Linked DNA regions of Homo sapiens. The protein of the gene in region 5 purifies or fractionates together with the protein of the main gene of each other region. This does not show direct contact. Each region holds a gene or a part of one and is shown on either strand. Other genes may lie near its edges.

Region 1 (3,500 bases), on a different chromosome or scaffold from region 5:
TTTATGAGCTATGCTATAGTAAATTCACAGAAAAAATGGAGATGGCTTAATAATAAACCAATAATAAACTAATAAAAATACTAGTTTCACAACAATGTAAATATACTTAACATTACTGAAATGTATAATTAAAAATGATTAAGACAGTAAAGTTTATGTTATGTGTTTTTTACCACAATTAAAAAAAAACCAACACCAACATTAGCTTTGTTAGAAAAATATTAAAAGGATTAAAAGGATAATTTACTGTAATATTTCTCATAACAAGCATTTCTTGCTTATTCACAATAAATATTCCTTCCACTATTAAGGCATGGAGATTATTTTTCTATAGTTTATGAATTAAAATCGATAAGTATTTTATAGAAATAATATACTGGAAGAAGATACAAATATGCTACAATATTTAACTGCATTCTACCCCCTAAGCACACATTTTCCAAATTCTCTATAATGATGATGTAATTTTCACATTCAGAAAAAAGATTTTTTAAAATTGAGATTGACATTAAATATAATAACTGTGACAATTAAGTAATATTTGAGGCCTGGATTTTACATCTCAGAATTCACTCAATGTATACCAGCTTATTTAATTCACCTCTATATTTCATGCTTCTGTGTTAGGACAAAGGCCAGTCTGTGGATGTGCAAACATTTTTTTTTCTTTTTTTTTTGAGACAGAGTCTCACTCTGTTGCCCAGGCTGGAGAGCAGTAAGAGCATGGCTCACAGCATCCTCAAACTCCTGGGCTCAAGCAGTCCTCCCACCTCAACCTTCTGAGTAACTGGGACTACAGGTCCGTGCCACCATGCCTGGCTAATTATTTTTAGTAGCGATGAGGTCTCGCTATGTTGCCCAGGCTGGTCTCGAACTCCTGAGCTCAAGCGCTCCTCCACCTTGGCCTCCCAAAGTACTGGGATTATAGGTGTGAGCCCCTGTGCCCAGGAGCAAATTGTTTTTTTATAAGTAGAGGCAGTCCAAGAGAGCCTACTAAAATCTTAGCTACCCTGTATCCAAAGACTCTTTGGAAAGAAAAGTGGAATGGTTTGGGGCCCTACAAAGGTTAAGAGAAATTAGTAGAAATATGTTGAGATATGCACAGTTGCAAAGACCCTTTGCTACACTGTTTGATAGCACAAAACAACAATAACAAAAAATGCTACTGTTGAATCTAGAATTCACTAGGAAAGACATTCTAGTGACATATAATCCAAAATAAATCTAAAATTATATACAGCCACAGGTAGACAGTGCATATAAATGACAACACTGAGATTGCATTCAGGAGGTTTAAAGATATATTAAAAACTTTTGTTAACTATATTTGAAAACAGTCTTCTCACCTGCGTGGCCTAGTCCTTGGGGACATCATTTCATTCCCAAGTATGTGGTACCGTCTTGCTTCATGCAACAACTGATAACACTCAGGAGAATTCTGGATCAATTGGTCCACTTCAACTGTTTGAACAAAGTAGTTGGGATGCAACAGAGGGAGTCTCACATGTGTCAGGAGCTCGTGTAACAGTGGTCTTCTCAGATCAACGGCACGATAGACCCAACGCATGACGGCTTCAAAAACCATCTCCTCTTTACCAATAACAAGTTCATCACTACAAATATAATCAATAAGTTCATCTTTGTCAAGCTCAAGAAATTCTTCGTGCTGGGATACATCCTCAAAAGTCTGTAACGCAAAATTTTTGCATTTTGTGAAGAGTGTTTTGAGTGAATGGGTATCAGCAAAGCGCTGGATTCCTAAGCAATTACAAGGATCAAGTTGCTCCTCCAAGAACTTGGCACATGCATCACGGAGAACACTAATCTGAAAGAGGCTTGATGTCTCAAAGAGATACTGTACATTCTCTGTAGTGATCTTCACCTTTCCAGTATAAACATACTGCAAAAAACATTCCATAGCTTCAGCTAAAATACCATTGATCTCAACCAACATTTCTCGGCTTTCCCTGTGGTCATTACAAAACATAGCTCTGAAGTAGCTGCTACAGGCTGAGAGCACAGCTCTATGGCAAGGAAATTCTTTTCCTTCCACACAAATGATAACATCTGTGAATAAGCGGCTATCACGAAATTCATTAAATATCTGGAGTATGTTTTCGGCATGGGATGATCCTGAAGAGAAGTCAAAAAACTCATGACCTGTCAGAGATTTGGGGTCCATTTCAAAAACTTTTCGCTTAGTTGCTGGGGAATCACGCACCCCAAGATCCTCTCTGTTTAGTCTGCGTCCCAATATTAGTACCATTGTTACATCAGTTGACTATATAATTGTTGAGAAATGACTATTAGGGATCTTCTTTATGTGGCTAAAAGTAAAAAAAGGAAAACATTTCAATATGCAAAAAATTCAGTATTCAAATCACATAATTTCATTTTAATATAAACACTACAACAAAATCACATAATATATTTCATATAGGGTACACAGCACTATCTCATGTTAATAAAAACTAATCAACAAAAATTTGCATTTGAACAATTAGAACATTGGGGTAATTTGCAATAGTACTCCTTAAGCTCCCCTTTTCTAGCTGAAAGGATACTATGTACTTCGTGAGTTACTAATAACCTTCCGTTTCCTCCCCATTTACAGAGCTGAGTTTCATACTATTGACTGTAGAGTTAAGTCAGAATGGTGTAAGACACAATTTGACTACAGTTAGAATTCTAACAGTTATCTTTCTTTTTAAGAATCTTTTTTATTTTGAGACAGGGTCTCACTCTGTCACCAAGTTTGGAGTAAAGTGACATGATCATAGCTCACTGTAACCTCAAACTCCTAGGCTCAAGCGATCTTCCTGCCTCAGCCTCCTGAGTAGCTGTGACTATGTGTGCGTACCACCATGCCTGGCTATTTTTTTTTTTACTTTTTGTAGAGATGGGATCTTGAACTCCTGGCCTCAAGCGATCCTCTCACCTCAGCCTCTCAAAGTACTGGGATTACAGGCATGAGCCACCATGCCTGGTGAAATAATTATTATCTTAATATAGAATTCCTAGAGAGGAATTTAGCTATATCTATCAATAGCCTTTAAAAATATGTACATTGTTTGACCAGCAAGTCCTTTTTTTTTTTTTAGCACTCTCTCCTAAGGAAATAATCAGAATTATGTCGACAGATTTATCTATGCAGATGTCCAATGCTGTATTGATAGAAAATACTCAAAATAACCTAAATGCCCTATAAGAGGGGATTGGTCAAACCACAGTACATCTTCTGGCTAGAACAAAGTCTATGCAACCATTAAAAATTATATATGACTATTTAACGACATGGGGAAGTAGTAACCACACAGTAAGTGAAAAAGTAGATCACAAAACATATGCCAACAGAAAAAATAATGTATCTGTGAATCTAGGGATAGGATGTACATATGCTAAAATGTTTTATTTATCTTCTCTATTTTCTACCAAAATTTCTATTATAAAATTTAATATTCATTTAAAAAAATTTCATGCATGTTATCTAGGTCTTGTTC
Region 2 (3,038 bases), on a different chromosome or scaffold from region 5:
TAAACTAAAAATACAGCTTTCTAAATAAGGTGACTCGAAGTAGGTAGGTCTATATCATAATAGCTGAAGCTGAGCCTGAATGACTCAAGAAGATGATTGATTTGAGGAAGGTTGTTAAATCAGTTCTAAGAATCTATGGATTAATAATTTGAATTGAGAAAGTGAATTGTGAGTAACATTTGGTATAGTATATTGATAGATATTTTTTCATTTTTTATTCCTGTTTGTCATTATGAAGTCTTCAGTGTAAAATACTATATAGTTACTTTTTCCTCTTGTGTTACAGACCAAACTCAACGCCTAAGGTAGAACAAGCAAGGTAGAAGAGACAATACTGGGCAAACTCGTGAAGTTAAACTTGTTTAAGTGGGTAGCTTTTACTTAGATTCAGCCTTTTGTTGCCCTGTGTAGCCTTTTGTTGTAGGTCCCAGAATTATACCTCGTGATAAATTACAAGTCTATGTTTATGCATAACATTAGACATAACATTAGACATAAACTGTTTTTACCATTTTATTTTTGTTTACATATTTGTTTAAAATCAGTGAATTTCTTTGCCAGGTTCAGATAACTGAAGGGCCTTTATAAGTAGTTTATATTGTTCAGACCCAAGGTATGCTGAAAACATAGTCTGGAGCAAAATAGGAAATAACATCTTTCTAAAGACAGGCTTAGAAGTTCTAATCCAGTAACTTAAGATGTTCCCTTTGTGTGGTAACAGAGCTGATTGATACCTGTAAGAAAACATTGAGATAGTTCAATAGAAAAGATTGTTGCATCAAATGGCAAACCCATCTGTGATACATATTAGTCCTAGAAGTCTTAAGATAAAACTGAATATTAAAGTAAAGGTCTTCAGTGTCTATTAATCCTAAAAACTTTTGTTTCTTTATCCAGTTTGCTTCAAGGCTATAGCATAGATTGCTGATGCAAGAGTTCAACAGAGAATAGCCAGAATTATTTTAGAATAGAAGGCTAATATAACAGCTAGACATTTTCTGATGGAATTTTCCTTTAGTGCAAGTGTTCAAACTCATCCAAGATAATTGTTTATATGATAGAAGTTTCATGCATAATACTGTTTGCAGCTTTGTAGTTAGTTTAGTATTCAGTACACAAATTAAGGTTAATAGCCTAACTACACACCAAGTATAACTGTTTGAAATTCTTGATAAGTAGAATTTCATTATAAGAAAAAACAGGTCTTGCTAACTTCTAATCAAGAGGGTAACATTGCCTTTGGTCTAAATGCCTTAAAAACAAAATATATTTGCTGCTTTAAGTTGTGAGTTTTATAGGTAATCACATATTATAAAAAGTTTTTTATTTCCTACCTGGCTGCTAGACCACCATTTACAGGTATAGCCAAGAAAACAGGGTATAGACCACCAATAACAAGACCAGTCAGTCCACTCCGTGTTATGGTACAGGTTTCACAATCCAAATCACCTAGGAAATAAATTAGTCATAGAAATGAAGGTCATGATAGTCAAGCAAACATGATTTAAAGAATGTAAGATCCTCTTTTGTGTATCACAGGTATTTTTCAGGTAATATATCAAATGTAATTGTACAAAGCCTGTTAAAAGGTATAATTACATCTATGAGTAACTTAAAATAGCTAGGAATAATTGGTAAAACTATTTTAGGAAAAAAAGTTCTCTAATTTGTTCTCAACTTAGATATAATAATCTCATGGTTTGGGCTACTGCTAGCTTTCTGCCTTGTTTTTTATCAACAGACCTAGGCTAATATTTTCACTCAGTCTGTTCAATTAAATGGGCGATAGGTCTTCCTTGATCATAGAAATTGTTTCCACTGGTCATGGGAATTAAAACAAAATACTCGTCAAATTTAAACAAATTTGGAGCAGCACTTAACAAAATTTAGATGGACTGCCTTCCCTAGCACCCATGGTAATATTTTTATTTGAAATAATTAATCAAAAGTTTTTTTTATGATTAACTGTACTCAAAGTATTCAGCACACATGGTAGATTTTCAAAAGGAAATCAAATCTCCATGTATTTGATAAATGTATATGCATTTAGTGCTTTAAGAGATTTACTGTATAAAGAGTTATTCCCATAAAAATATTTTCCCCCTTTAAGGAACTTCTCTATAAAATATAAATAAAAAATCTAAGGTAGCCAACATATTATTTATATACATTTGTATATATATAATATTTCCATATATATAATTTTCATATATATGTATATATGGATTTCCAAATATTTCTTACTCTAAATGAGCACTGTGAGAAAGATATGTTAGAAAAAGGGAAGTATTGCCGGGTGCAGTGGCTCACGCCTGTAATCCCAGCACTTTGAGAAGACAAGGCGGGTGGATCACCTGAGGTCAGGAGTTTGAGACCAGCCTGGCCAACATGGTGAAACCCTGTCTCTACTAAAAATACAAAAAATTAGCCGGGCATGGTGGTGGGCACCTGTAATCCCAGCTACTCAGGAGGCTGAGGCAGGAGAATTGCTTGAACCCAGAAGGTGGAGGTTGCAGTGAGCCAAGATTGCGCCAGGGCACTCCAACCTGGGCAACAAGAGCAAAACTCCATCTCAATTAAAGAAAAAGTATTTAGAACTGCTGTGTATGTGCATCTTGGTTGGTAGACCATACTAATATGAATTATTTGCCACATTATATAGGCTAGCAAGATTTAATCTTAACTGCATTACAGCATACAGCTACTTGATATTAATAAGTATGGACTAAAGCTGCAAATAACATATACTAAGGCAAACTCTTTGGTGATAGTGAAGTAGAATTTACCTGTATTCAAAGGAAAACTTACAAAACATCTGTAAGTTAAGTCTGTTGTAAGAAAAGGTATCCCTGCCATTGGTAAGCCAGCAGCTATGCGAGCCTTTGTCACATTCAAGATGCGTCGAAAAAGACTGTTTGCTATGAGGCCACAAAGAGCAGCATTTAATCCAACATAAACCGATCCATTTTCAAGTAGATTCCTGAAAGGGTGAGAAGAAAGAACTTTTCTTTGGCATTATTGTGTGTGTGAGCTTTCCC
Region 3 (3,500 bases), on a different chromosome or scaffold from region 5:
CAAGATCAAGCCACTGCACTCCAGCCTGGGCGACAGAGTGAGGGTCCATCTAAACACACACACACACACACACACACACACACACACACACACACAGTTCACTGGGGGTGGGGCAAGAGGCACCACGTGCCAAAGGGTAAAATGTCAGCCAATGGTGAGTCTGGCAGGGCCAAGAGGATATGGGAATTTTTGTAATTTTCCTGTAAGTCAGAAGTTATATATACAATTATGGTATAAAAGACTTTCATTACTGAGAACAAGACAGAATTTCAGTTTCTTTTGAAACAAGTCTCAGTCCTTATGGAATCTGAGACAGCAACAGATAGCTTTCGTTTCACATAGCTGTGTCTGGAGCTCCCCACCGCAGGTGACCCGCCCGCCTCGGCCTCCCAAAGTGCTAGGATGACAGGCGTGAGGCACCGCGCGCGGCCACACTGTGTGTTTCTGTTGAGATATTTGAGAGCAGCTTCTAACGCTAAAGCTTCCTGTGTCCATGTGTCTTTTACTACCACTCAGGAGCCACCGGCGAACACCTTCTCCCTGGTCTACAGACAGAAGCCTCCGGGAAGTCCCGGAAAGCAGGGTCATCTCTTCAGTGGCAGGGACTGCCTCCAGGGCCCTGGCACAAAGTCCCTACTTCTGAATCTCAGGATGTTTTAATCAATAAAATAAGAAAGCTCCTGGCTGCCAACCTCACCAGGTCGTGAGTGAGAAGCCGGCACATCAGAAACATGCGGAGCCCTGGGCAGGCACCTCCCAGACACTGTCCATCAACTGCCCAGGCAGCAGAACCAACTCTCACACAAGTAAACGTCGGAGTCCAGGAAGCCGGGCGCGGGCAGAGGCCAAAAGGAGGAGCTGCTGGCTCTCGTGGGCTTGCTACGGGGCTGGCGGTCCGCTTGTCCTCAGCTCCAGGCTTGCTCAGCCTGCACCTTGGCTGGCGGCGTGTGGACTGAGGACGTTAACGGGGCAAGGCAACACTGGCCTACGCAGATGAAGGGGTCGGTGAGCAATGTGGCTCCTGCACCCTGCCTCTGAGGGGCCCGCTGGGTGGGAGAGTCATCACCCAGCTGACGGCATCTCCGACACTGGAAGTCGTGGCTCCTACAGACCTCACACCCCACAAACCCAAAAGGGGTGTTCTCATTAGTGGGGGAGGCGTGGGACGAGCTCCACTTCTTCCCTTGCAACCTGGAGTCCAGCGTGCAGTCTGCCCATCAAAGGTCATGATGAACATCTCCCAGGATCTGCAAGCCTGGCACCCAGGGCCTGCAGCTCGACACCTGGCAGGTGCTCAATCCACGGTGGCCGGCGCAGCCACCCTCTTCTGCCTGTTAAAGCAAAAGCCGTTTTGGATGGCAACCTCGCTTGCTGCGTGCCATTCGGGTGCCTGTGCGGTATTTATGCGTAAAGTCCATCTGCAGAGGCTTCCTCTGGCCTAGGCTGACCACAAAGAGCCCTGACCTCCTGGCAGCACCAGAGTGGGCTTCAAAAACCGGCGGCCAGCCCGGCCATTCGGGGCCAGCAGCCTCAATGGGGGCAGTTGGCAGGCGACCTTTCCCTTCCTGCTGGGCCGGGGGACCAAGCCAGGAGGAGCCTGCCTCCCCACAGACCCCACCTGGCTCTGGGCTCCGCCAGTCACACTCAGCTCCGTGCACAATCTCAAGAGGCAGAAGTCCAGGCCCAGTGGCGGCTGATGTGTGGGGAACCCTTCTCTTCTTCCAGAGCATCAGGAAGAGCCTCTAGGGACTTTCCTGCCCCTAAGACCAGGTGGGAAACCAGGACCACTTCACCCACTGCCTCAGGCCAGTGAGCCCAGCCCGCCCCTCCATAGCCTGGACTCCCTCTCCCCAGCAGGGTCAGATGCCCCCCCTCCAGCCCACGCCTGCAGGGTGTGGGGTCCACAGAACACAGGAGCGGTCCGTGAACTGGAACGCGCTGCTGTGTGCTGAAGGAGCCCCTGAATGCCCACATCCTGGGTGCTAACTGTGGTCACCCTCATCCTCTCCCTGCCAGCCCCGCCCTCCCAGGCGGACCAGTGTTCTCCTTGGCAACGCCTGGAGCCAAGCTGGAAGCTCAGCCTATAAGCATCTGTCGAATGACTGGCCTCTGCCAAAAGCCCTGTCACAGCTCTCAGGGATTCTGACATCATGACATGGTGTCACGGGGACCAGGCCTGGATGGGAAAAGGCCTCAGTTCACAGAAGACAGCACAACCTCAGATTGACGGGTCGCACCATGAACATAGCCGCCTGACCAGGAGCGCCCTCTGTGCGGGGCGGGCAGTGGAGGAGTGTGGACTCCCAGCTCCGGATCTTCCACCCCCTGGGGTGACCCCGGGCCCATCCCTCAACTCCTCTGTGCCTCAGTCTCTCTGGCAAAGCCAAGGGTTAGAGCCAAGGCTACAAGCACAGCTGGGCACGCTGCGCGCTGCTGCTAGCTCTGGGCCACTGGGGAGCTGCTGTGTGAAGGGCAAGCGCCAGGGTCCATGCTGCTGCCTTTCTAGACACCGGCCTGCTCCAGACCATTGGAGCCAAGGCGAGCCAGTCAGGAGCACATCCACCCTCAAGGCCCATTCACAGGAATCAAAGGAGCCGACACAGGACAAGCCATAAACCACAAGGAGCAGCGGCCCCCAGCGCAGGGGCAACCAGGCCAAAAGCACAGATGCTCCCAGACAGTGGCTCTCCCCCCAGCAGGACACTGGGTGATGTCTGGGAACATTTGTGGTTGTCACGACTGGGGGTACTCCTGACCCGGAGTGAATGGAGGCCAAAGGTGCTGCCCAGCACCCTGCAGTGCCCACGGTGCCCCAGAGTGATCCAGGCCAGAGTGCTGACAGAGCCCAGGAGACCTGCCTCGGAATAACTCCAAATGCACCAAGAGAGCCCCAGAAAGGCCGGCACGGCCCCATGAGGTTCCCTATCACTCCCCGCACTGCAACAGCCTCCCCCAGATCACGGCCCTCTCTGGCCTGACCAACAATCTTGCCAGGTGCCTTGTGCTCACTCTGCACAGGTACAAGTAGTCACGGCCTCTAGGGGCCCAGCCAGGAGCCCCACTCAGGATGTCTCCTTCCACAGCCACCCAATAAACCCAGAGACCTGCCATGGGCCTGGCTCTGAGCTGCATGGCCCCCGGCCACAGTCCTGGGTATCCTCGAAGCTGCCCAGAGGCGGCTTTCTCCTCTCTCCGCTGAGTCCTTCCTCCCTCTGTGACTTTCCTACAATATTTCCAGGTGTCCCTGTCTTACCATTCCCCAGTGTACCAGATAAAATCTTCCATAAACCTCTCTCTCCAGTTCCATGACCGTGTGCTGCCTTGGAAGCCAGCAGAACACAATGGCCTGGGCGCTCGAGGTGACCCCTCTGAGCCTCTGTCCTCTCCCCAGTAGGCCAGGCATGGGCCCTATCCCTGACACCTGGTCTACCACCCAGGCGCCTAGCACCCAGCGGCTACTCAACAGGATGTGGCGACCCCGGCCGCGCTGTGTCAGCTTC
Region 4 (3,500 bases), on a different chromosome or scaffold from region 5:
CAGCTTGACAAGGCCTGTTAAGGATAAAAATTAAAATTAAACATGAATATTATCCTCAGGAAGCTGACAGATTGAGAAAAATACATCATGTTTAGAAATAGCAATAATTCAAAGAAGAAATTGCTAAGAAAGACAAGTGTAATATTTATGAAGGGTAATCTCACTTCAGGGAGGGATACATCACTACCACCTTCAGGAATAAGAAAGCTCCATTTATTTTTAAAATTTTATTTTAATTGTTGTGGGTACATAGTAGGTGTGTATATTTGGTAAGCTTCATTTAAAAGCTGACTTGAGCTCTTAATGAATAAGCAGGGAAAGAATTCTGAGCAGGGAGAATACATGAAATATTAAAAAATATATACATTGGTCTCCATCCTTGGCTCCTGACATAGAGCACCTAAAACCCTTGCAGACAGGGGCACTAGCAGAATCTTTTGTTGCAACAGTCTTTTACCCTGGTTCCTGACACAGAGCTCCTAAGAACTTTGCAATTTCCTGATAGGGGAGCCTGACACAAAGCTCTCTACCATTAGAATTTCCTGGGTAATAGGAACATCTTTTGTTCGAATAAAGCAACTCTCCATATCATTGTTAAGTTCTAGTTATCTCACTACTTGTTTGGAACAGTAAATAAAATTAATTTGCTTTTGGGAATGCAAGGTTTTACAGAAGTATTTACTTATGTTTATGTACGACTAAGCTTGCCTAAAACACTTTATATAAGGAAAAGTCCCAGGTACTACACACAAAACTGAGATAATCAGAAACTTCAAAACTGTACTAAACAATTGTTTCTCCCTCTGTACAAGCTGCCACTAAGTTAGATCTTTACTGCGCAAACAGCTTTCAGGTGTGCTGCTTCTTTAGCCCTGTGACTACCCTAGCTCAGCAACTCATTTCTTACGTGACAATTTGGTCTACCTGCCTCTAATTTTACTTCTATTCTCCACATACTACCAGTGTGGGTTTTTAAAAACTCAAACCTGATCACATTACTGCTCTCTTGCTAAAAAAAATCCTTCAGGTGTTCCTTACAAAAAGATAAAAATCTAGCTCCTCCCTCCTGATACAGAAGGTTTTTTATTACTGTCTGCATACATCTCTAGCTGCAACTCCTAATTACCCCCCATCCATACCTTATAACCCAACCATATTTAATTATTTGTTGCTTTCCAAACATGCCTTTTTATATGCTATTCCCCACCCAGGAAGGCCTTTCCAGAGCTAGAAAATTCCTGCCTGTCCTTCAAGATTCAGATCAAATGTAACATCTTCCAGAAAGACTGGGTGAGAATCTTTCATCTTCCCCTCATCACCAAACAAAAATAAAGTGCTGCTTTTCAAGATCCTATGGCCCCTACTACCTTACCTTGTACAGATATGCCTACCTTACCAGACTGTCAACAAAGTGAGGAAGAAAAGAACTTCTGTCTTAAGATCTTTGAATTTCTGGCACACAGCACATTGCCTGGTATTTAGGATATGCTAAACAAAGGTTTGAGTAACTATGAGAACAATTTATGAAACAGAAACAAGAACTTATTGGTACAATGAAAATCTGGGACTGTGGAAATCAAAACCACCAGTCAACTTAAGAAAAACCAGTTTCCTTAAGAAAACTACTACTTACACACATAAGGGCACAAAGCATATCAACTGCTGCATGGATTATTCCGTTGTTGCTTCTTTTGAGTGCTTTTACTACCTTCACCCCTAGACGCTCGCGAAACCTTTTGGAACAAAAAACAAGCATATACTAGCAATACCAGAACATTTTAAATTGTTATATTATTGAAATAGATCATATTAACTTTCCATTGCACTACTGGAACAATGACGTATTTTAAATTCCACCTCTGAAATTTATCAGTCTTCATAATAGTTTTTTCTTTGAGAGGGAAAATATTTTTTAGGGTTAACTAAAACTAAAAGGCATGTAATTTCCCATTCAAATTCAAGAGTCAGTTATATTACTGGTGAGTATGGGACCAATATTCCGCTTCTGCTGCCCTCACCTTCCTTTTTCATTTCTCATGAATAAAGTACCATATCACCCTATAAAAGGTATCTGGTTTAGTCAAGGAAAAGGAGGTGAATCGTTCATTATTTGCCATTTTGAGTAGTTCAAATTCTCTAAGAGAAGTTAAGTTTCAGAAGACAACTTACTTTGGAAGCTGAGTGAAAGCCAGGAAACCAGCTTTGGATGCCACAAGCCTCCTCACAGCCTGGAACTGACTCTCAAGTTCCGCATTTGAAGCAACGACATCCCCTTCTTGGGACAGTAATGCTGTTATGGCATTATTGATCAGTTTTTCTTTGTTTTCTGAGAAGAGACCCTAGGTGAAGAAAGAGTATTTCAAAAAAGTTTCCATACCAAAAGTTAGTAACAATGAACAATTATGATAAAACTTAGCTTACATCTTGTGTTACTGCATGTAGGACTCCACTGTATGAAATATTAGCATTGAACCTGAATACAGCATCTGCAAAGTTGCCATCTGTAAAGAGATTAAGAGGTTCAAAAAGAAGATACGAATTCCTAATTCTTAAATTAAGTAGATGAGTGGAAATGTAATTACATTTAAATCAATACTTACTTGGAGGCGTAGCTAAGAACCTGAGGTGAAGGCTCTCTACTTCCTCATCAACAGGCATGCTGAGTAACCCCCATCGCTGACCTTTATGGGTTGGTGTCATTTTTACACAAACATCTCTATTACCAGAGGCTCTTACTCCATCCAGCAAACTTGCTAATAAGGAATCTCTAAGTAAGATTAAAAGTAAAAAAAGGTTTTAGCATTGATGATTAAGGGGAATTTTGATCTAGCATGAAGCATAGGCCCTTTAGCAGGTAATCTGCTCAGGGACACACTACAGTTACAATGGGAAACACAAACAGTGGGGCTTTAGGAAGAGCTCTAATACTAGCTCTTCACCGTGCTGCTACATGACCTTGTACAAGTTACTTAAACACTAATTTTAATTTCTCTTTCTCTCCCTTTAAAATTATTTTTAACAGCTTTACTCGGTTCTAATTGACAAATCACAAGTCATCCAATTAAAACGTACAGTTTGATAATTTTTAATAAATTTATACAACTGTATAATCATCATCAGTTCTGATATATTTTCATCACTCCAAAAAATTTCCTTGTGCCCATTTGCAAAAGAACACTCCCCAGCCCCAGGAAACCACTGATCTATCTCTATAGTTTTGCTTTTTAAAGAAACTTCATAAAAACAGAATTATAGAATATGTAGTCTTAGGTGTCTTGCTTATTTTACTTATCATACATAGGCTTTTGAGATTCATCCAAGTTGTTGCATGTATTAGGTCAGTCCTTTTTTATTGCTGAGTAGTATTCCATTGTATGAACAGGCAACATTTTGTCTGTTTATTCACTGGCTGATCTAGATATGGATTGCTTCTGTTTTTGGCTATGAGTAATGATATTACGAACATTCATGTGCAAGTCTCTCTGTGGGCATCTTTTCAT
Region 5 (4,159 bases):
CACTTCCTCCTCCTCCTCTCCCTCAGAGAGGAGGTCACAGATCTGTTGCTGCAGCTCTGGGCTAATGCTGTTCTCAGCCAACACCAGGCTCCGCAAAGCTGTGGGGTAATTTTCTACCATGTCCAGCAGGGTCTGAAGTGGGGAAGAATATGGAAAAGGATGAACACAGTTAAGGCAGGTCCTCAGACCTCAACCTGCCATGCCTTAGGTATGTCATCAGACACATAAACTAACCTCCACCCCATCCCCTGGCCGTGCCCAAACATGACGACTTCCCACCTGAGCTGACTGGTTGGTGAGCCCTGTGCCCTCCAAGTCTAGGACCTCTAGGGTACGACTAGAGGCCACAGCTACAGCCAGCATTCCTGCCACATGGTCACCTGGGGAGACAACACACGTGCACACATTCATACACATGCCTGCTAATCCTTACAGATAGCTTCCCCATTGCCTTAACAACTTTAGATACTAATCCCTGGCCAAGGAAACATGGACAATTGGTGGTGGTCAGGAAGGGATCATTGTGATTGGTGAGTGAAGGCACGAAGCAAGTTAGGCCCACGGGTGGTGACTGATGTTTTGATCTATTTGTTGGTCACCTGGTCCGCCACAAAGCTATCTCCTTGACCCCTGGGGGCTCCCGTTTCTCTTCCCTCTCCCAGTGTACGGGTTACCATGTCAACTGATGGTCCCAGGCTCTTGGATAGGGCATGAGGCAGTGACAGCCCAAGGGGGTATTCTTGAGCCTCACCCAGGGGGTTGTAATCCAGATTGAGGACGCGGACCTGGGAGCTGTGGGCCACGGCAATGGCAAGGCGGCTCCAGCCCTTAGGGGTGATGCCAGGGTTGGCACTCAGCGTTAGCTCCTTCAAGCCTGGGCAGCATCATAGCAAGAAACCAGAATAGGGAGGGTTAAGCCCTCCTCCAGCCCTTCCCCACAATCCCTGTGTCTCTGGGGTGTCCCTAGTGGCTGGGCACCACCTTACCCCCACCATAGAGGTCAAGAGCCATTAAGGAGGCCCATGCTTCCTCTGCCTGCCCCAGCCTGGATTCCTGAGTCTCCATGCTGCCCCCCGTCCTGCCCCTTCCTGAGAGGAGTAGAAAGATGTTCTCGCCCACATCATCAGAGCTCTGGGGCCACACCCCCTTCCCTCTGCATTTCGATTTTCATCACTGCCACACTAGCCCAAGCCCTCAACAGGGTCCTGCTCACCAGATTTGGCCCCATCTGGGGGCAGGAGGCCACAGATGAGGTTGATGGCTTCATCACCCAGCATGCAGTCCCCCAGGTCCAGAGCCACGAGGGCAGGGTGGAGGGCCAGGGCTGGGTTCAGCAAGGCCAGCCCCGCATCTGTCAGGGGGCTCCCATGCAGGCTGGAGGAGAGTGAGAGAGCAGGGTTACTGCAGTCCTCCGCACTATCTACATGGGAAAGGGGCACTTTCACTTCTGTCAGCCCTAGGTATGGGGAGGGCAGTCACAGCGCTTGAGAGGCCTGGAAAAGGAGAAGGAAAGTTCTAGATTCTCAGGGAATACAGATAGAGGGAGAATTCGGTTTGTTTTCTGGGGCAGGGATCCAGGACATTGCACAGGGAGGGGCAGAGAAGGGGTGGGTGGGTGGTGGACCGGAACTCTGCAGTGGGCAGGGCTCTCGTCCCCACGGGGATATTCCCCCTTGGGAACCAAGGAGCTGCCCCAGTGAAGTAAATGCAGATGATTAGGTGGGGAGGTACGGCCCCCACCTCATGTCAGGAACTGGTGGGTATCCCAACACGGCTAGGGTCGCGCGTGCAAAGTCCAAGCATGTGCTTGGAGGGTGCTGTGAAGGCATGGGCCGAGGCACGGTGTATGTGCATAAGGCATGTGAAGGTAGGATGGTACTGGAAGGAGTGTGGAGGAACAGGAGGTGCCAGGGGAGTGTATGGAAGGGTGCAGTGCCCGGGACCCCCTTGCGAGGGGGCGCACTCACAAGAGGGACTGGATGGAGCGGTTGGTCCGCAGAGCCTCAGCCAGCTGCTTGATGCGGCTGGGGCTGGACACGACGCCCAGGTTAAGGTTGAGCTGCGCCAGGGACGTGGCCCCGGCCAGGGCCCGGCAGATGCGGCCAAAGTCGCGGTCGCAGAGGCGGCAGCCGCGCAGTGAGAGCAGGCGCACGGCGTTGTCGCGAAGGCCGCGGCAGATGTCCCGCACCTCGGCGCCGGACAGCGGCTCCCCCGAAATCTGGATGGAGCTGGGCAGCATCGTGCCCACGGCTGGGCCTCCGGGTACGGGGCCGGAACGGAGGTTGGTGGGGCCGCGGGCGGGGCCGGGGATAGGGCCGGGGTCGGGGCCCCGGCAGGGGTCGCGGGCGGAGTGGGGCCGGGGGTGGAGGCGGCGGCTGTGGCGGAGGCTGCGGCTGCGGCGGAGGCTGCGGCGGGGGCGGAGAAGAGCTACCGGGACTGAGCCGGAGCCGGCCAGAGGTGCGGAGGCGTCCAGGGCGCGGGCCGGGCTGAAGTGGGGCGGCGCTGGGGCGGGGGCGGCCCGCACGGTCCGTGTCTGGGCGTTGGGGCGGGTGCGCGTTCCGGGGGTTGGGCAGGCGCTGCTCGGCGCTTGTCCTTGTCCCTCGCGGTCGCGGCGGCGGCGGCGGCAGCGGCAGCGAGCGGCTCAAGGGCTTCGGCTTACCGGTCTCGGCTAGGAGGCCGTACCCGCTCCCTCCTTCTCTGCCGCCCGGCTCCCCCCGACCACCCCGCGGGCCTGGCCGCACGGCTGGCAGAGAGAGCCTGAGGCGGGCGGCTGGCGGCAGCTCCGGCTCCAGCTCCAGAGAGCGAGCGGGCGGCGAGTTCCCATGGCAACGGCCGCGTCACCGGCGCTCGCCCCGCCCCCTGCCCGGCCAAGGCCACGCCGGCCCGCGAGGTTCGCGTACACTGGGTGGTTCGGGGCAAGGAGCTGGGAGCGATAGGCCGCTCTTCCCTTGGGAGTGGGGTCAGCCAACTGGCAGGCGGCAGGCGGCAGGGCTGAGTGGGTAGGGCTGACGGGGAGCGGAATGGAGGCACGCCCCGTGGAGATGGCGTTGGGCACGGTTACTGCTGCTTCTGCCCATTCTTCCATCCTTCCCCGTTCCTAAGGTCCATACCCCCGCCGGAATCCAGGGCACTGTTCCCTCCTATTTGGAAGGCCCCAGGGCCCTTTCATCCGCGCCGCGCCTCGCTCCCGCCCCCGTGACTCGAGGCGCAGCGTGCGTGGTGATCCCGGCCCATGGGGACTTCCCCGCTTGCTCCTCGCCAAGATGGCGGCCTCATCAGGGAGGCCCCAGGGGCCACGGCTGGGCAGAGCCAGCTTGAGCTGCTGGGGAGAAGGGTACCCCATAGGGTCCCTAGGGCAGGGGAGCCTCAGATAGATGCAAGGTCCTGGTGCCACACCTTCTCAGGTACGCAGGGCACTGTTGACATCTGAGGGTGTGTCCGTGCCGCGAGACTGGGGCAGCCAATACAAAGAAGGTGCCAGGGCCAGGGCCCTGGAGCACTGGTGAGGACGTGAAGGCGGCTGAGCCACACTGCACGGTGCAGGCGGTGCTGTCTCAACTTTGTCCTCTGGCCAGGGTGGTGGGGGACTCACTTGTGTAACGCAGGACAAATGAAGGGCACCTCTGTTTGTCCCTTTGTTAGGAGGGATAGATGCTGCTGACCCAGATTTACTAGTGTTAAGATGATTATTTTACATAAAATATAATATTCAATATAGTGAAGGGAGGTCAAAGGCCCTATTCCCACTCTTAGCCACCTGAATTAACTTATTAAGTGGAGCATATTAAAGAGGTGGTGGGGGTGGATGGTGCTATGTTAGGAGTGGTGGTTGGTTTTAAGAGGAAAGACAGAAAAACTAAAAGGAGCTGGCCCCAGTACCACCAAGGCAAAGCCAAATTTGGCTTCAATTAAGAGCTCCACAGGAAAATTATCAACACAATGCCCAGGTGCAGAAGATCCTTGTTTTGACACGGGGTTTAAGTCGGGATGTTTTGTTCAATTGTCACTGCTTCCTTGGCTTCCCAAGAGAGCAGCTGAGCCCAGACTCAAGCTGGCTGCAGTGTTCCATCAGGCTTATGGCTTTTGTGCTTGAGGCCTCCCTGCCGCTTCATGGGTCAGGTGTGATATTCAATCACTGCCTTCTATGTAGTCTGGCCTG
Region 6 (2,842 bases), on a different chromosome or scaffold from region 5:
TCTGGAATCATTACAGAACAAGCATCAAAAAATGCTTGGTGAGAATAGACTGGTGGGGTGGACAAAGAAATCTGTGGAAGCCATTGAGAGAGAGAGAAATGTGGAAGGCAAGCTGCCTCCATGTGCTTCCCCTGAAAGTCCACCCAGCCACTCCATAGACTGGACATCTCGGAAGCATAAGCCTCTTCTGGGCACAGCTGTAATCCAGCAGCCACCCTGAAGATTGGGTGATAGCTCTGCCTAGACTTCGGCACATCCTGAGGCTCCCAAACTCCAAAGCCCCAGAGAGTCTGGGGGCTACGGCTGGAAACTTCTCCCAGAAGTTAACATGGGTATCTCACAGCATCCCATGATGTAGGGTCTAACATCCTCCATCCAGGGCCCAGAACTAGGGGCCAGCCCTGCTTTGATGCCACAGCATCAAGACCAGCACACCTTGTTTGCCCCACTGCCTCCACCAACTCAGATCAGCCAGAAAGGTCAAGAACTGGACAAAGCAGGAGAGTTGACCATCAGGTATATTGGGGAAGGGAGAGATGGAGGCACCTTCATGAGTGCCTCCCAAGGGCAGTAGCCTCTGCAACTTGCTGGGGGTTCAGGGGAAGCAGGGAGTTCATGGGGCTCCTCCAGCAAAGATGAGCTCCAGGGCTGCTTGGATGTCCCCACCGGTGGCCTGCAGGGCCCGCAGGCTCAGCTCATCGTCCTGGATGCCCATGTCACGTAGCTGCTGCAGCTGGGGCTGCCACTGGCTCTGTGGAAAGATAGGAATGGGCAGAAGCTGTTAGCTGGGATCCAGTGAAGACTCACTTAGGTCTGTGCTTTCCGGGGAAGGAAAGGAAGATGGGGGAGTCCTCAGCAAAGCTGCTGATGCTGAGTTCCACAGAACACGGTGCTTCTAGGAAGACTAAAAGATAGGCTTGAGGGTTAAGAGAACAAATCCAAAGTTTTACAATAAAAAAAGGAAATTCTTGGCATAAGGATCAAAAGAGAATGTACAAATTATTCACTGTCTGAATTCCAAGAGGCTAAATTACTTTCTTTCTCTTGCTATGTGTACACACACAACAGCAAGATTTTGCTCTTTATGTGATGAGTGTTACAGATTTTTTTCCCAGTTTGTTAGCCTTTGGACTTTGCTTCGGTTTTTTGTTTGGTTTGGTTTGCCACGCAGAAATTTTCACCTTTTTTTAAATGTCTTAAATTTTTGTGGTATATAGTAGGTATATCTATTTGTGGACTGTAAGAGATGTTTTAAATTTTTCGCTTTTACAAACCCAAAATGCATAACTTTTATTTAATGGCTCCTGGATACTGAGTTTCAGCCAAGAAAGCCCTTCCCTACTATAAGGATTTGAAGAAATTCACCCATATTTTCTTCTAGTACTTTCATAGCTTCATTAATATCTCTATTTCATGACAGCAGGGATGAGCACAATTTAGGGAAAACAACGTGTTCACATGTGGGAAGAAGGCAATGCAAAGGGGAAGAAAAGCAAAGTCAAAGAGGCAGGCAGTGATGAGAACATGGAGGGCTTAAAAAAAATGCACACAGATCAATTTGAATTCATTTTACAGGCCAGGTGGAACCAGTGAAAGCTTCTGAGCTAGGGAATAAAGTAAACAGGCATCTAGCAACAGGGGAGATGCAAGAATGGAGAAGACAAGTTGTTCACGAATCCTGCTTCTGTTCCCTCACTGTCTACAAGGACCACATGGAACAGTGAAAACCACACAGGCTTGAACCCTATCGTTACGACTTCATGGCCTTATGACCCCAGACAAGTTCCAGGGATGATGCTCTACCCATAGGCTTACTATGTGGAATAGAGGAAAACAGACGTGAACCAAACTGCTCATGCATGGAGCTGTGAACTACAATGCTGGCCCCTCAGGTATTCCACTTAGCTGCTAGGGTGACCTTTCTCCTCCTTAAAGCCTCCCATGGGCCAGGTGTGGTGGCTCACACCTGTAATCCCAGAACTCTGGGAGGCTAAGGTGGGTGAATCGCTTGAGCCCAAGAGTTCAAGACCAGGCTGGGCAACATAGGGAGACCCCCCCATCTCTACAAAAAATACAAAAAATTAGCCAGGCATGGTGGTGCATACCTGTAGTCCCAGCTACCCGGGAGGCTGAGGTGGGAGGATCACCTGAGCCCAGGAAGTTGAGGCTACAGTAAGTTGTGATCACACCACTGTACTCCAGCCTGGGTGACAGAGTGACACCCTGTCTCAATCAATCAATCAATCAATCAATGCCTCCCAGGGATCCCTGGTGACTGCTACATCAAGTCATCAAGTCTAATCTCCGCAGGTTGGCATGCAAGCCCCTCTCGTAGGCTCCTGCTCTTTCTCTGGCCCCATCTGCGGATCTTCTACACTGGACACTGCATCCTAGCCTTGTAGTTTTGAGTATGTCACATATACCTCCACACATGTGCACAAACAGGTAGCTGTCTTCACCTGGAAATCAGCCCCTTCCTACCTCAAACCCCCTTCCCTGGCTAGCTAACTTCTAACTAATTCTTCTGACAATCAGCTTAAATACCCCTCTCTCAGAAAAGTTTTGTCTGACCTAGGCCCTTACTTCAAGCAGCTGGGTTTCTTGCCTTGTTGCTCCCCAGCTCAGTGCCTGCCTGGTGCCCCTCCATGGCAGGGATGAGAACCAGCTTGCCACTAGCCCAGCATCTGGACTCAGGCCTAGTATACACATGCTCAGTCAATGATCACTGAATGAATGAATGAAATGGCCATGATTATCTAAGCCAGGTGGTCTAGGGAGTCAGGCCATGGTCACTAGGGGCAGGAGAAGCCTAGTGACCACTGTGTATGGTCTGAGAGTGTGC
Region 7 (3,500 bases), on a different chromosome or scaffold from region 5:
GCTAATTTGTTTTTGTATTTTTAGTAGAGATGGATTTTTGCCATGTGGCCAGGCTGGTTTCGAACATCTGACCCCAGGTGACCTGCCCGCCTGGACCTCCCAAAGTGCTAGGATTACAGGTGTGAGCCACCGTACCTGCACCTCATCATTTATTTCTGTCCTAGGACTTCCAGCTTGTCCCCTTCCAGCTCCTTCTGCAAGTTGACATCCTCCTCCTCCTCCCCTTAAACACCAAGGGTCCTTGAGTCTTCCCTGCCATCCTCCTTCATCCACTGCAGGCTGACAGCCCCTCCCATCACTCGGATTGACTCGGAGGTCACCCAGCAGCTCAGGGCCTTAGCATCTTCTGCATTCTTATGGTGCTCTTCCACACGCACTCCCCTGATCTCTCCTGAAGCTGCCCTCCCTTGGCTCCTGTGACCCCAGGAAGCCAGGTTCTCCTTCCTCTCTCCTGGCTCCTGTTGCTCCGCCCACTCCCTAAATACTGGCTCTCCTTGTTGCTCTGCCCTTGACCCTCTTCGAAGTCTTCTCACTGCCCACTCTGGCAGTGCCTCCGCCCTCTTTTATAGCACCAGCAACACTTCTGCGCATCTGGCTCCTACATCTGAATCTCCATCGCAGTTAGGCTTCCAGAGCTGCTTCGTGTCCCCAGCTGCACCCAAGATTTTCTTTTCAGCCTTGGATAGCAACTCAGTCTCTCCTCCTGACTGCCCCCTTTCATTCTCTTTTCTATTCCTTCCATTACCACCCTGATAGATGCTCATCACCTAGGTCACAGCCCTGTTCTCTTCACTGCCCCTACCTACTCTGATTATCCCACCACCAAAACACCACTTTAGTTCCATTTTTCCTGTGCTCTTTGAATGAATCTTTTTTTTTCTTTTTCTTTTCTTTCTTTTTTTTTTTTTTTTTGAGATGGAGTCTCGCTCTGTTGCCCAGGCTAGAGTGCAGTGGTGCAATCTCCACTCACTGCAACCTCCCCTTCTCAAGTTCAAGCCATTCTCCTGCCTCAGCCTCCCGAGTAGCTGGGATTACAGGCACGTGCCACCCCGCCCGGCTAATTTTTGTATTTTTAGTAGAGACGGGGTTTCACCATGCTGGTTAGGCTGGTCTTAAACCCCTGACCTCGGCCCGCCTCAGCCTCCCAAAGTGCTGAGATTACAGGCGTGAGCCACTGCGCCTGGCCTGAATGAGTCTTCTGAGTAAAGTCTTAGGAACTCTTCAGCCTGGTGTCTGAGTCCTACCAAGTTCTGCCCCCAGTTTACTTTTCTCCACCTACAGGTCTTTGTGGCCTAGCTCCCCTGAGCTATGACGTATTAGAATGGGCCAGGTACCCTCCCACGTTGAAGCCCTCCCCTACAGCTGCTTCACCCCGGGATTCCATTCCTTCACTCCATCTCCTGCTGCCAGAGTCCCTGCAGCTGGGCAAGCTGGAATGGTTCTAGGAATTTGAATGGGGGGATGACCCAGGCAGAGTTCTACGGTTGACCTCGAGTCCCTGGAAAAAGGAGAGGGCTTACGTCTTTAGTAACTTCTCCCAAAACTGTCTCTCCAGGAACCAGTGACCAGGAAAGACCATTGGGCTCCTTTGAAAAAGATTCCTCCCATCCCTTTTTTCCCCTACCAGATGCCAGCAGCTCTTCCTTGCCAGAGATGATCTGACCCGGTGGGGGCAGCTGGAAAGCAACACTGGCCCCCAGCTGAAGGGCCCAGCTGCAGCCAGACAGATGGTGCTTGAGAACCGAGGCCCGGTGATCCTCCAGCCACAGTCCAGCCCAACCACTGCCACTTTCCATGGGACTTAGAACTTCGGAGTTGCTGCCTTGCAATTGGAGGAAGGACCTGGGGCCCCTATAGGCAGCAGCCAATTACAGCCCCTTTTGTAGCCAGGCGTTCCTATGGTCAAAGAGTGGAAATGCAGGAACCAACCTCCCTTTAAAAAAAAAAAAATCCAGAAAGCAGATAAAAGTTGGAATATGGAAAAGGGCAAGATGACCCCCACCAGAGGCTCTTTGGCCTGAAGGTGGAGTCTCTGCCTCCGTCCGTTCTCTATCTCTCCTGTCACAGACTCTGCCTGACCCCCTTTCCTCAGCTCCCTTCTGGTCCCCCTTCCTCAGCTCCCTCCGGGCACTTGTGCCCTTCCCTTCCATGTCCTCCTGTATCTCAGCCTTCCCCCGGGGCTGCTGGCCCAGCACACGAGCCCTGCACCCAGCCTGGGTGGGAGGTCCCTGGCCAGTCCCCCAGGAACTCTGAGGAGCTATGGGCTACTGCAAAGCATCTGCCGACTGCCCTGCCCCGTCTGGCCTCATCAGGCTGCTGCTGTTAGGGATGGGCTCACTCCCAGCAGCTCCCGGTCACCCAGCAGGGATGGGGAGGGTGGCCACCCTGGAGCTGGAGGACTCTGGGGAGGCAGGGTCTTTAATTTGGCAGCAGACAAAAGCCAGTTCTGGAGTCACACCACAGTAGGGGCTCACAGGGGCTCTGACTCCCCAGCTGGACTGGAAGCCCTGCTGTCCGAGGGTGGGCAGCGGTGGGTCCTGGAGTGACCCCTTTGAGCAGGTGCAGGGCTAAAGAGCAAGGCGGAAAGGCCGCCAGCCTGGGTGAGCGCCTAGGGCATAAGGGCTTGCTGGGTGCCCCTGAGAAGGGCGGGTGATCTGAGGAGGAGAACTCTGATTCTAGGAACGCTTACACGGCACTGACCACTGCCACGGGGAGGGAGGCTGCCCAGCCCGTGGCCCCGCCCTGGACATGGGAGCGCGCAGACCTTCCGGAGAGCCGGGAAGCCTGGGCAGGCACGAGGCTTCGGCGCGGCTCTGGGAGGTTGGGAGTGGCATCCGATCCTTGGCCGGGCCCTGGTGGCCTCCGTGGCCCCAAGATCACAAGGGCGTAGCGAAGGCGAGCCGGCGATCGCACCTCGTCCCGCCCACCCTGCCCGGACTCGCAACGCCGAGCTTGGGGAGGGCCGGGACGCGCAGCCGCCGCCGAGCGTGACCAAGTTTGGAAACGCGCGCGGGGCCGGGACGCTGGCTCGGGGGGCCCTGCCGAGGAGCGGTCGCCCCCTCCGCTGCTCCCCGCGCCAGGCCTGGGGCCCTGGAGGGAGGGGGGGGGGTCTCCGAGGAGTGCCTCGGTACCCCAGCTCGAGTTCTCGACGGGTCTCTGAGCCTTCCCCGCGCCAGGACCCGGCGCACTGTGGGGGAAGCCCCAGCCCCATGTCTGTTGAGTGTTGCTTTGTTATTTTTTTTCCTCCTATGTGTGGGTTTTTTCTTGGAGCTGTTTCATAGGAATTCCTGTAATAAACAGTTGGTGTTCTCTTGGTGCTCTGATGTGGCCAGCGGCGTGGGCTGGACCCTCCTGCTCCCTCCTCCCTCCCGGCCTGGGGCAGGGTTTGTCCCCAGGAGCCCCGCGTCGCATCCCTAGGGTACCCCTGCCTTGCCTGGCCCATTCACCCGCGGCGCTCTCCGACTGCACTCTCGAGGTGACACCTGCGGCACCGCTGCACC

The links.
Region 1: the proteins of LRRC73 (region 5) and KLHL24 purify together in Homo sapiens (co-immunoprecipitation; 2 studies listed by BioGRID and IntAct, with this or other methods). This does not show direct contact.
Region 2: the proteins of LRRC73 (region 5) and TMEM126A purify together in Homo sapiens (affinity purification with mass spectrometry; one large-scale study listed by BioGRID and IntAct). This does not show direct contact.
Region 3: the proteins of LRRC73 (region 5) and DAZAP1 purify together in Homo sapiens (co-immunoprecipitation; 2 studies listed by BioGRID and IntAct, with this or other methods). This does not show direct contact.
Region 4: the proteins of LRRC73 (region 5) and DNAJC13 purify together in Homo sapiens (co-immunoprecipitation; one large-scale study listed by IntAct). This does not show direct contact.
Region 6: the proteins of LRRC73 (region 5) and UBL7 purify together in Homo sapiens (affinity purification with mass spectrometry; one large-scale study listed by BioGRID and IntAct). This does not show direct contact.
Region 7: the proteins of LRRC73 (region 5) and CUEDC1 purify together in Homo sapiens (affinity purification with mass spectrometry; one large-scale study listed by BioGRID and IntAct). This does not show direct contact.

Annotation. Positions count from the first base shown.
Region 1 is NC_000003.12:183,649,123-183,652,622, reverse strand, and holds part of KLHL24 (kelch-like protein 24), read right to left. Parts: intron 2,328-3,500; 5' UTR 2,267-2,327; coding exon 1,347-2,266; intron 1-1,346. UniProt on the Homo sapiens protein: Necessary to maintain the balance between intermediate filament stability and degradation, a process that is essential for skin integrity.
Region 2 is NC_000011.10:85,654,005-85,657,042, reverse strand, and holds the end of TMEM126A (transmembrane protein 126A), read right to left. Parts: intron 2,981-3,038; coding exon 2,787-2,980; intron 1,450-2,786; coding exon 1,335-1,449; intron 735-1,334; coding exon 542-734; 3' UTR 501-541; downstream 1-500. UniProt on the Homo sapiens protein: Protein required for the cotranslational protein quality control in the inner membrane of the mitochondria.
Region 3 is NC_000019.10:1,410,586-1,414,085, reverse strand, and holds part of DAZAP1 (DAZ-associated protein 1), read right to left. Parts: intron 1-3,500. UniProt on the Homo sapiens protein: RNA-binding protein, which may be required during spermatogenesis.
Region 4 is NC_000003.12:132,455,502-132,459,001, reverse strand, and holds part of DNAJC13 (dnaJ homolog subfamily C member 13), read right to left. Parts: intron 2,768-3,500; coding exon 2,601-2,767; intron 2,502-2,600; coding exon 2,422-2,501; intron 2,340-2,421; coding exon 2,170-2,339; intron 1,734-2,169; coding exon 1,634-1,733; intron 1-1,633.
Region 5 is NC_000006.12:43,507,547-43,511,705, forward strand, and holds the start of LRRC73 (leucine-rich repeat-containing protein 73), read right to left. Parts: upstream 2,801-4,159; 5' UTR 2,240-2,800; coding exon 1,968-2,239; intron 1,375-1,967; coding exon 1,214-1,374; intron 875-1,213; coding exon 752-874; intron 381-751; coding exon 280-380; intron 133-279; coding exon 1-132.
Region 6 is NC_000015.10:74,445,477-74,448,318, forward strand, and holds the end of UBL7 (ubiquitin-like protein 7), read right to left. Parts: intron 752-2,842; coding exon 614-751; 3' UTR 501-613; downstream 1-500.
Region 7 is NC_000017.11:57,861,413-57,864,912, reverse strand, and holds part of CUEDC1 (CUE domain-containing protein 1), read left to right. Parts: intron 1-1,627; 3' UTR 1,628-3,500.